Homo sapiens: one gene and its partner. The protein of the gene in region 1 interacts with the protein of each later gene in a biochemical or structural test. Each region holds a gene or a part of one and is shown in the gene's direction. Other genes may lie near its edges.

What was found. Proteins that work in one complex are often made in the same cells at the same time.
Region 2: the proteins of MYB (region 1) and HIPK2 form a complex in vitro, tested with the Homo sapiens proteins (one study listed by BioGRID).

Annotation. Positions count from the first base shown.
Region 1 is NC_000006.12:135,215,178-135,220,447, forward strand, and holds the end of MYB (transcriptional activator Myb), read left to right. Parts: intron 1-221; exon of another isoform or gene 222-323; intron 324-1,703; exon of another isoform or gene 1,704-2,686; coding exon 2,687-2,803; 3' UTR 2,804-3,995; downstream 3,996-5,270. UniProt on the Homo sapiens protein: Transcriptional activator; DNA-binding protein that specifically recognize the sequence 5'-YAAC[GT]G-3'. Plays an important role in the control of proliferation and differentiation of hematopoietic progenitor cells.
Region 2 is NC_000007.14:139,560,221-139,565,919, reverse strand, and holds the end of HIPK2 (homeodomain-interacting protein kinase 2), read left to right. Parts: 3' UTR 1-4,350; downstream 4,351-5,699.

The DNA of each region.
Region 1 (5,270 bases):
GGAAACTTTGTTGCAGCAACTAGGCAAGGAAACCCTACCACTGTACCCATACCTTGTTTTAGTAGAATTATGTTTCTTTGCTAAGAAGTCTGGTGACTCTCACACCCCATCTCAGCACTTTCCTGGATTCCAAGGCCCTGGTGCCCTGAGCACACAACTTCCCAGGTTCCTTTTATTGTTTCTGATAAGAACTCGAATTAGAGGCAGCGTCTGGTACTCACCAGGGGTGTGGTCCCATGGGTGACATTCTTGCTCCATCATTTCTTACCCAGGTAACCTTGAGTATGGCGCCTAAATCCTCTCTTCCTTTCAAATTGCCTGGTCTGTAAAATGGATGCAGTGAATGGTAGCTATGCCACAGGTGTTTTGTGTGAGAATTAAATGAGAGGAGTTATATCAATAACACTTAGAGGCATGCGGTGCCTATAGTGAGGGCTTGTTTTATGTTGTCGTTTAACCCTTTCTTTCTCAGCCCTCCCCCACTCCACATCCCCTCCCACTGGCAATGTACAAATTGCAGCTTCCTGCCTCTTTCCTGCTATCTCGCTCCCTGGATGACATCCCTGCGTTTCCACCTCTCTCTCCCCTAATCTTAGCTGTTTTCACCCTTTCCCCACAGCATTGCCTTGACAGTTCCTCAGTGTCCCATCCCCTCTTCCCATGGACAACACCACAAACCTGCGCACACGGCCTGTTATTATTCCTCCTGTTTCACCTGTGTCCATTCTGTCTCATAAAGGACACTGTAGGCTCTGAACAGCTAAGGCCTTTCTTATTCTTTTGTCCCATGGAAAATAATCCCTCCAGATAGCAATACCAGGAATAGTGCCTTTTCTAACCCACTGGTTTCCTTTTGAGCTTACAGCCACCAAATCTTATATCTGTTTGTTTCTGTTCCCCTCTCTGCATTGACTGCTAGAGAGATCAGAGTCAAGCAGGAGGTTACATCTAGCTGGGGCACTGTGCTTTATGCTGGTGTTTCGTGTGCAAATCTCATACCATCTTCATGTTACAGTTGTTCCTTAGTGTCCATGGGGGATTTGTTTCAGAACCCGCAAGGACACCAAAGTCCAGGGATGCTCAAGTCCCTGATATAAAATAGCATTGTGTTTGCATATAATCTACACACATCTTACCATATAATTTTTTTTATTATTTGTATACATTCGTGGGGTACAAGTGTAATTTTGTTACATGGATGTATTGCATAGTGGTCAAAGTCGAGGCTGTGAGTGTATTTATCGTTGGAATAATGTACATTGTACCCGTTCATTCCTGTATACTTTAAGTCATCTCTAGATTACTTATAATAGCTAATACAATGTAAATGCTATGGAAATAGTTGTTATATTGTTAGGGGATAATGACAAGGAAAACACCTATACATGTTCAATACACAGCAATTATTTTTTTCTGAATATTTTTGATCTGCCATTGATTGAATCTATGGATGTGGAACCCACAGATATGGGACCCACAGATGCAGAGGGCCAACTGTGTTTATTTTTTCCAAATTTGTTTCCCTGTTATGACTCTTCTTTATACACATTTTTAAACTCTGTTGTCTTGTATTTCTTTTCTAATCATCTTACGTCCTTTTGGAAACCAAGTGGGGCATAAATAGTACATGTTTGCATTTGAGGCAACACAGAGGCATCGCAGGAGCTGGAGACAGCAAAGTTCAAAGCCAGTCCACCACTTACCTACAGAGTGGCCTTGGGCAAGTTACCTCCATTTTCTGTCTCCATTCTCGAGCCTGTCTAGAGAGAGAATGAACCTGCCTCCCGAGGTGATGGTGCTGTTTTAATGAAATAATGCATGTGAAATGTGAAGTGCCACTGTCCCTGGCATGGAGATGCTGTCCTTAGATATTAGGTCCATCTTGTATCTTCTAGTGTATCTTTAAAAATTAAACTATACTGGCTTCATGCCTGTAATCTCAGCACTTTGGGAGGCCAAGACCGGCAGATCACTTGAGTCCAGGAGTTCAAGACCAACCTGGGCAACATGGTGAAACCCTGTCTCTACAGAAAATACAAAAATTAGTGGGGCTTGGTGGCACGTGCCTGTAGTCCCAGCTGCTTGGGTAGCTGAGGTAGGAGGATCACTTGAGCCCAGGAGGCTGAGGCTACAGTGAGCTGTGATTGCACCAATACCGATCAGCCTGGTATGACAGAGCATGACTCTGTCTCAAAAAAAAAAGGAAAAAAATTAAACTATACTGATAAATATTTCTAAAGTAATTGATGAAAACATATATATGACACTTAGCAGGTGTTGATCAATTCCAGTGCGTGCATGAGCTGCTTTGCACTGTGGCTACAGCACTCAGCAGTTTGCTTAGTGAGTAGATGGCCATAGCTCACTTTAGGTATCTGGAGAATAATGCTCATTCCTGTCTCCAGCTTTGTAAAATTGCCTAATAGACGGAAGGCATTAAAATATGAAGATGGGATTATATCTTATGAAGCTGCTTGGAATGGGTTTTCCCTCTTAACAAATAATTTCTGATCATCCATATCCCTTAAGAACACCGGATTTCTGGGGGCCAGGGAGGTAAGATTCTATCTGACAAAGCCTTCCTGGTGTCAACCACTTGCCATCTGTTGGTCAGTGCTGGCCCTGCTGGGTCTATAGAATGAGCTTCTTTGTCTGACGCTCCTGTTGCCATCCCTTTCTCCATCAGCCTTGTAGCAGTACCTGGGAACCTGCATCCTGTGGAAAGATGGAGGAGCAGATGACATCTTCCAGTCAAGCTCGTAAATACGTGAATGCATTCTCAGCCCGGACGCTGGTCATGTGAGACATTTCCAGAAAAGCATTATGGTTTTCAGAACACTTCAAGTTGACTTGGGATATATCATTCCTCAACATGAAACTTTTCATGAATGGGAGAAGAACCTATTTTTGTTGTGGTACAACAGTTGAGAGCAGCACCAAGTGCATTTAGTTGAATGAAGTCTTCTTGGATTTCACCCAACTAAAAGGATTTTTAAAAATAAATAACAGTCTTACCTAAATTATTAGGTAATGAATTGTAGCCAGTTGTTAATATCTTAATGCAGATTTTTTTAAAAAAAACATAAAATGATTTATCTGTATTTTAAAGGATCCAACAGATCAGTATTTTTTCCTGTGATGGGTTTTTTGAAATTTGACACATTAAAAGGTACTCCAGTATTTCACTTTTCTCGATCACTAAACATATGCATATATTTTTAAAAATCAGTAAAAGCATTACTCTAAGTGTAGACTTAATACCATGTGACATTTAATCCAGATTGTAAATGCTCATTTATGGTTAATGACATTGAAGGTACATTTATTGTACCAAACCATTTTATGAGTTTTCTGTTAGCTTGCTTTAAAAATTATTACTGTAAGAAATAGTTTTATAAAAAATTATATTTTTATTCAGTAATTTAATTTTGTAAATGCCAAATGAAAAACGTTTTTTGCTGCTATGGTCTTAGCCTGTAGACATGCTGCTAGTATCAGAGGGGCAGTAGAGCTTGGACAGAAAGAAAAGAAACTTGGTGTTAGGTAATTGACTATGCACTAGTATTTCAGACTTTTTAATTTTATATATATATACATTTTTTTTCCTTCTGCAATACATTTGAAAACTTGTTTGGGAGACTCTGCATTTTTTATTGTGGTTTTTTTGTTATTGTTGGTTTATACAAGCATGCGTTGCACTTCTTTTTTGGGAGATGTGTGTTGTTGATGTTCTATGTTTTGTTTTGAGTGTAGCCTGACTGTTTTATAATTTGGGAGTTCTGCATTTGATCCGCATCCCCTGTGGTTTCTAAGTGTATGGTCTCAGAACTGTTGCATGGATCCTGTGTTTGCAACTGGGGAGACAGAAACTGTGGTTGATAGCCAGTCACTGCCTTAAGAACATTTGATGCAAGATGGCCAGCACTGAACTTTTGAGATATGACGGTGTACTTACTGCCTTGTAGCAAAATAAAGATGTGCCCTTATTTTACCTACTTTTGTTTTCTCTCTTATTTGTCACTATGGACAACAGTTACACTTTAAAGAAAATGGAGCAGACTCAAGGCACTTTCCTCTAATAATTGCACACCATATGCACTTCGTGTGAAGAAGCCAGGAATCATTACAATGGAAAAGAAAGAACAAGCAAACTGAGTTAAATAGTTCACAAACAATCACATGGACAATGGGGAGGAATCTTCCAGAATGCATCAGTCAGGGTCTAGCGGCATTTGAGTGCGGATGCTGTAAGGGGAATTCGTTCACAAATGTACTGATACCACAGATGTGGGCAGGGGCTAGGAGAGCAACAGGGTGCAGGCCTGAAGGCACCTGGAAGGCCGCCTGGAGGGGGACAGTCAGGAAAGCAGGAGCCCTTGAGAGGAGCACTAGCCTTTGATGAGACCACTGCCATCGAAGGAGACCTCACAGGGAGGGAGCCAAGGGTAAACCCTAACTTTGTTTCCCCATTTCTCCTATCTCTGCCTAGGGGTCCTCACTGGCAGAACCAACCAGAAGCTGGAGGACAAGGGAGCTCCCATATGGGAGCCGGCCTGTGAGCCTTCAAGGGTATGCGGAGTCGTTTGTTCAAAATAGCCCCATTTCACAGATGAATCTCTACTGGCTCCATCTTCAGCTTAGTGTTCTCTTCACTATGCTGTAATATCCCTTTTAACATAAATTCCTTTAAATTTCCTTTACTCACTCTGTTCCAATTCTGAATTCTCATGGGCATGATACACTTGGTGTTCATAGAGCCAAGGATTTGTTACGCCTAATTACTAGTTTTTGAGTCAATTTGGTGGACTTTTACTGTCCTGCTGATAGATGACGTGACACGTCTTCCCAGTGTTGGGAAGCTCTTTATATTCATGCCCTCTCCGAGTATTTTTCCAAGCGCTGACTCTGCCACTTACTAGCAGTTTGAACTTAGACAAGTCACTCACATCTCTGAGCCTTTTTTCCTTATCTGGGCAATGAGTTCTTTCCCACAGTGAAACTTTTATTAAGTAATGCACTATACAAATGTTTGTTATTATGTACACTTTCCACAGTCCAGTGATGCTTGCTGTGTAGTGTGTTGAATGCCCATCTTGCTGATAATGTGCACTGCCAATTACACAGTTATATTGAGAGGTCACTTAATTATTAATGACAAGAGTGAACTCAACATCTTACAGAACTGAAATAGATATTTATATTTCCAACACGCTTGTAACCCAATAACTAGAGACTAAAAACCTAACTTCATGAAAAGGAGTGTAAATTTA
Region 2 (5,699 bases), on another chromosome or scaffold:
AATACTAAAGGTATATATTTTTTTCAAAATGCTATTTTTTACTGCACTTGATAATTATCCTGACAGCTCTGATCTCTGTAATAGATTCACTCTTCAGCTCTGGGCAGAACCAGAGGCAGGGTTCACACCAAATTTGTAAATACCATATGTGGGTCTGGTGTCCAGGAACTTTTTTCTTTCTGTTAAAAAAAAGAAAAAAAAAAGAAAAAAAAAAAGAAGTAGAGGTGGAAGAAAGACAAGACTTAGAGGAACAAAAGAATGTTTTCTTTTGAGATACTCTTCTCAAAGAAATAGCAACAATTGTATAAACAGGAAAACCAGCCAGCTTTCATGATAAAAGGAAGGCGTGTCTCTTGCCCTGGTATGAGATTAACAGAAATACAGATGCATTTTTATTTTGATTGAAAGATGGTGAGAATGTAGAAATGCTTAGGACTAGATTTTTAATTTTTTAAAATAACTATTATCATTTATTATGAAATATTTGTTCAGTTGTTTTGAGTGGGTTTCTTGTTCCTTTTTTCATTTAAAACCTTCTTTGTTGACTGGCTCCAGGCTTGTTTGCCTAAATTCTTAGGTAGTTTACACAAGTTCTAGAATCTTTTAGAACTTTAACTCCATTGGAAGCAAACCTAACTAATCGGAGTTTGAGATCCTGGTTGGTTTCAATAGGTATTCTGGAATTCTGGCAGAACACCTAAAGATTTTTTTTTTTTTTAGAAGGTTTTAGATACATTATCTTACACAAACTGTGACCTAATGGCAATAATTACCTCAAATGTGGGCATTCATCCTGGTTTTAGCCTTTTTTGAAATCATGTAGCCAGCTTGATCTTGGAATTTAAAGACTATGAATTCTCTGTGGGCTGAAAATAATGATTACTTCATACCCCCGGTCATCGTTGCTTAAGTGAATTCTGAAAATAGCTCATCTTTACAACAAAAATTAAACCAAGGAAGAGATTATTCTTTGTGTGTTGTACTCAAATGCGATGTTCAAATGCACATGTTAAGTATATATGTTTTTAGCTACTGTAAAATGCTGTTAGCCTTCTAAGCTATCAAAACAGTCACATTTTAAATGAGTAAACTAAACAATTGACTGTGGATACTTAAGCATATTTCTGGCTACGTTTTATAGTTAAAGTGTTTTATAGTTTACATTTAGACTGGTACTTTTTAAAGAAAAGTTCTGTTTATAACTGACATCCGCAAACCCCAGTGAATGCCTCTTAGTTGGAGGTTGTGTCTCCCCCAAGGCAAGTGTGTTGTCCCAGACTCTTCTGTAGTCCAGCATGCGCACTTCCCTCTGGATTATTACTTTCCACGTGAACTCAAGAGAACATGAAAGGCAATCCAGATGGAGGGAAAAGGTGTGAGTCCGCAGCCCGGGCCAGATGCGAAGGTCTCATGCGTGTCGTCTAAACACTTGTCTTCAAGGCCTTCTCTCTGACATCTTGGAAGAGTCATTGAGAACAGATAACCTGGTTCATTGATTTTTGTCTTGATTTGAATATTTAACTTATTAATAGATCCACTGATTTCCAGGCACCAGGCAGTAGAAGAGACTGGGATTCAGGTGACCATGAAGGCACAGCTGCTACTTCTGGGCCGGGGGTGATATTTTGATCAGCGTTTTGTAGGGGAGGACCATATACCCCTATTCCCATGGTCGCTGGCTGGGTTTTCCATATATCTGCTGTCATTTATTCGTTTTCCCCTTAAAAGCAAAATCAATGTAAAAGGCTATGTTTACGTTTTACTCATTGTCCAGCTTAGACTCAAAGTCTAGTTCGGTGGGAGGGGGACCTTAGCATCCTCTCAGAGATGGTCAGGGCTGAGCAGGAGGAGGCAGAGACAGAGGGGCAGCTCAGCCTGGTCCATTGAGACCCACTCTAAACAGACATCATATTTGGAACAAGAAGATGCTTCGAGACAGGAATGGGCCCCACTGTCATGCAGAAACAGACTGGGGGAATGGCAGTTTCCCTGAGTCTTGGTTTCTTTTATGTTTTCTCTTGTGCCACCACCAAACTGCAGAGGACCTGCTGTGACCTAAAGGGCATTCCTTTAGCAGATAAGACCTTGAAAACTGCAAAACACCTGGGACCAGGGAGCTTTTAAAAAATACAAAAAAATACCACATTTGCTTTTTCCCTGTGAACTGTATTGACAGCGTGTTCTTAGGACAGTCTTTTGGTGGAAATGTTACTGTAAAATAGTTTTCATCTCACCCCTCCTAATCATACTCCCACTTTCCTGTTTGTGTGGTGGTGTTGCTGTTTTTTCCTTTACATGAATTAACCAAATGAATTTTGTGTCATTGTTTTTGGGGCTTATATTTTTAAAACATAGAAATTGCCTTTTGTTCATTTGAAAAGTAAGTATGTTGTATCTGAAAAAGGGCTCTGCCTCTGCTCTCCCTCGCTTCCTTGTAACCAATCTCCAAACGAATCTCTCCTGGCACCGCCCCCTTCCTTATATAGGGTCACTGTCCCCGGGGCCACCTCTGCCTCCACCCTGCTGTCACCACTGCCCTGGGCCAAGGCACCCAGGACTCCCAGAAAGCGCGAGAGCCAGCAAGAAGGCCCCACTCAGCCTTGAGACTGGTGGTCACACCTCCCTGTCAGAGTCGCCTGCTGGGCTGAAGGGGCAATGGATTGTCATTGTTGAAATTGTTTGGCTCAGGTTATAAGGAGGAACTTGGGAAGTAGAAAGTGACTTGACCATGTGCATCCTTGGTAGCTTCCTGTAACTAACAAATGGAACAGAGAGCACACCCCCGCCCCGCCCCACCCCAAGCAGATGTTCCCGTCAGCGCTGCCCTGAGTCAGTCGGTCCCCCGTTTCTGCTCTCCTCCCTTTTGTGTTCCTGCTCACTTCAAGCTTCTTCCATGGACTTTCCAGGGCACAGTCATCTCTAGCCCCCAAATCATCTCTTCATCCTCTGTGTGTGCATTTTTTTAACCAAATGAAATAGACAAGAAAGTCATACTTTGGGGCAGCAGAATTTCTAATTTAGTAGAATCACTGTATAGAGATAGATGTTGATATATATGTTTGTGTATATATATCAAACCAAATTGGATAGGAGAAGTATAGCTTTACAGATGAGGAGAAGGAGCTCTTTAGAGGTCGGAGTCAAGACTGGTGTCTTGGACGTGCATGGGCTGTGTCCCAGGCCACTCCGCACACATGGGGCTGAGGCGTGGCGCCGGGCCCTTGTCATCCACCTCACCACGGCAGAGCCAGCAGGCCCTGTAGGGTGCTGCTGCTGTCTCACTGGGTCCCAGCTTCAAGCGCATCAGTGGGTGACGGGGGCAACAAATCAGAGTGACTGGAAGTTTCCATCCCGTTTTGCTTTGACCACGTGTACTGAGCTGCAGCCTCTGATACTCTGTCACGTTTCCAAAAATGGTATCCATTAGGATAGAAAGAGAATGGATCTGCAGAAATGTTTACCTTTCAACTGCTCATGAATTCAGGACACTGGATAGAAAGACTCACTCCCCAAAATGAGAACAGGGAAGAGGAGACCCGGCGACACTAAGTCACCAGGTCCAAGGAACGTGGCTCCCTCCCCAGGGTCATCTCACCTAGATCTTTCTCTCCCAGGTCATCTCAGCTCAATCTCAATAACCCTATGAAAGCCCTGGTCTGTTGTGTTCCTTCACCGTACGGTTTCTGTAATAAAAAGTGTTAATCCATGTTAATCTGTGTGAAAATTATTGCGTGCAACAGTATTTTCTCGTGTACCTCTTTTTCCTATGTGAATTGTCCCTCTTTTTTATTTATAAATGTCTACTTTTGTTTTTTTAAAGACAAACCAATGTGTTGTAGACCTATATGTAACCTATTCCTTAGTCTCATATTATAGGTATGTTATAAGAATGGATATTTTACTTGGCTTTAGAATGTTTTACAAGAAAACTAATTCTTAACTGATCAAGTCCTTGCTACTAAAATGCTTGTGTTTTTCATCATGACGTCGTGTGCTTCTAAATTAATCATTTTCGTTGTAGAAAAATGGAGTGAATTTATATTAGTCTTGGAAACTAATAATAGCATTGTAAATTTATGAGATGATTTTAACAGAAAAAATATAGAAGAATATAGTTATTTTAATTGTAATATTACTAACTGTAGGGTGAGAAAAAGGGGGGGGGGTCCCATTGTGGTGAACTATGTTATAGCTTGTTACTCATAGTTTCTTTTTGATCATTTTTTCGGTCTCCGAGGTGAAATGACTTATTAATTAAAATTTGTAAACTCACATATGCATATTGTATATGTGTAGAAATGTAATCACACTTTGTCTTGGAATTACATTAAACTGTTTGAAATCACTGTACACCTGCCTGGCATGCTTATTTATCCTGGAACCAGACCTGTCATAAAAGCGAAGAGGTTATTGTTACAAGTAACATATTTGGGGTTTGTTTGTTTATTTAGATGGAGTTTTGCTCTTGTTGCCCAGGCTGGAGGGCAATGGCACGATCCTGGCTCACTGCAAACTCCGCCTCCCAGGTTCAAGTGATTCTCTTGCCTCAGCCTCCCGAGTAGCTGGGATTACAGGCATGCACCACCACGCCCGGCTAATTTTGTATTTTTAGTAGAGATGGGGTTTCTCCATTTTTTGGTCAGGCTGGTCTCGAACTCCTGACCTCAGATGATCCACCTGCCTCGGCCTCCCAAAGTGCTGGGATTACAGGCATGAGCCACTGCGCCGGGCCGAGATTATTTAATGGCTCTGGAAATGTGTAGAAGCCACCACTGCATTGAACATTTGCAGAGAGAGGTGGGGGGCCTTGAGATCACATTACTACCAATTCCCATGCAGTTGAGTGGGGCTAAGAGTCTCCCAGCTTCCTGCTGCCTCTTCCAAGCCATTTCAGCCCCATCTGCTCCCAATCTCTGTCCCTGACACCTAAGGTGTGGCTGTCACCTGCTGTCCTGGAAGCTTTCCAATATGCATCCCGGATCCTCCGCACCCAGGCCCTGCCGTCTCACCAGACACCATCAGCACCCGGAGCCTCGTGGCTTGCTGGCCCATTGCCAGGGCCCTTGCCACTGCGCACTTGAGCTACGTGCGCCACAGCCCCGTCCAGGCGCTGTGCCTGCAGCAGCTCCACCTCAGCAAGCCTAAGAAACGCCACATCCTGCTGGGACTGGGGTTTCCCAGCCTTCTGACACTCTTTTTGTCTTAAATTATGGTAAAATATACATAATATAAAATTACCATTTTAAGTGGACTACTAGCAACGTTAAATACGTTCACATTATTGTATAGGTGTCACCACCATTTCCAGAATTTTTTCATCATCCCAAACACAAGTTCTGTCCCCATTAACAACTCCCCATTTCTCCCTCCACCCGGTGCCTAGCAACCACCCTTCTACTCTGTCTCCATGAATCTGCCTATCCTAGATATTTCATGTAAGTAGAATCATATATTTGTCCTTTTGTGTCTGGTCTATCTCACTTAGCATAATGTCTTTAGGGTTCATTCATGTTATGGCATACATCAGAATTCCATTCCTTTTCATGGCTGAATAATATTCCATTGTATGGAGAGATCACATTTGGCTGATCCATTTATCTGTTGATGGACATTTGAGTTGCTTCCACCTTTTGGCTGTTGTGCAAATGCTGCTGTGAACATTGGTGTGCAAAAGATCTGTTCAAATCCCTGCTTTCAGT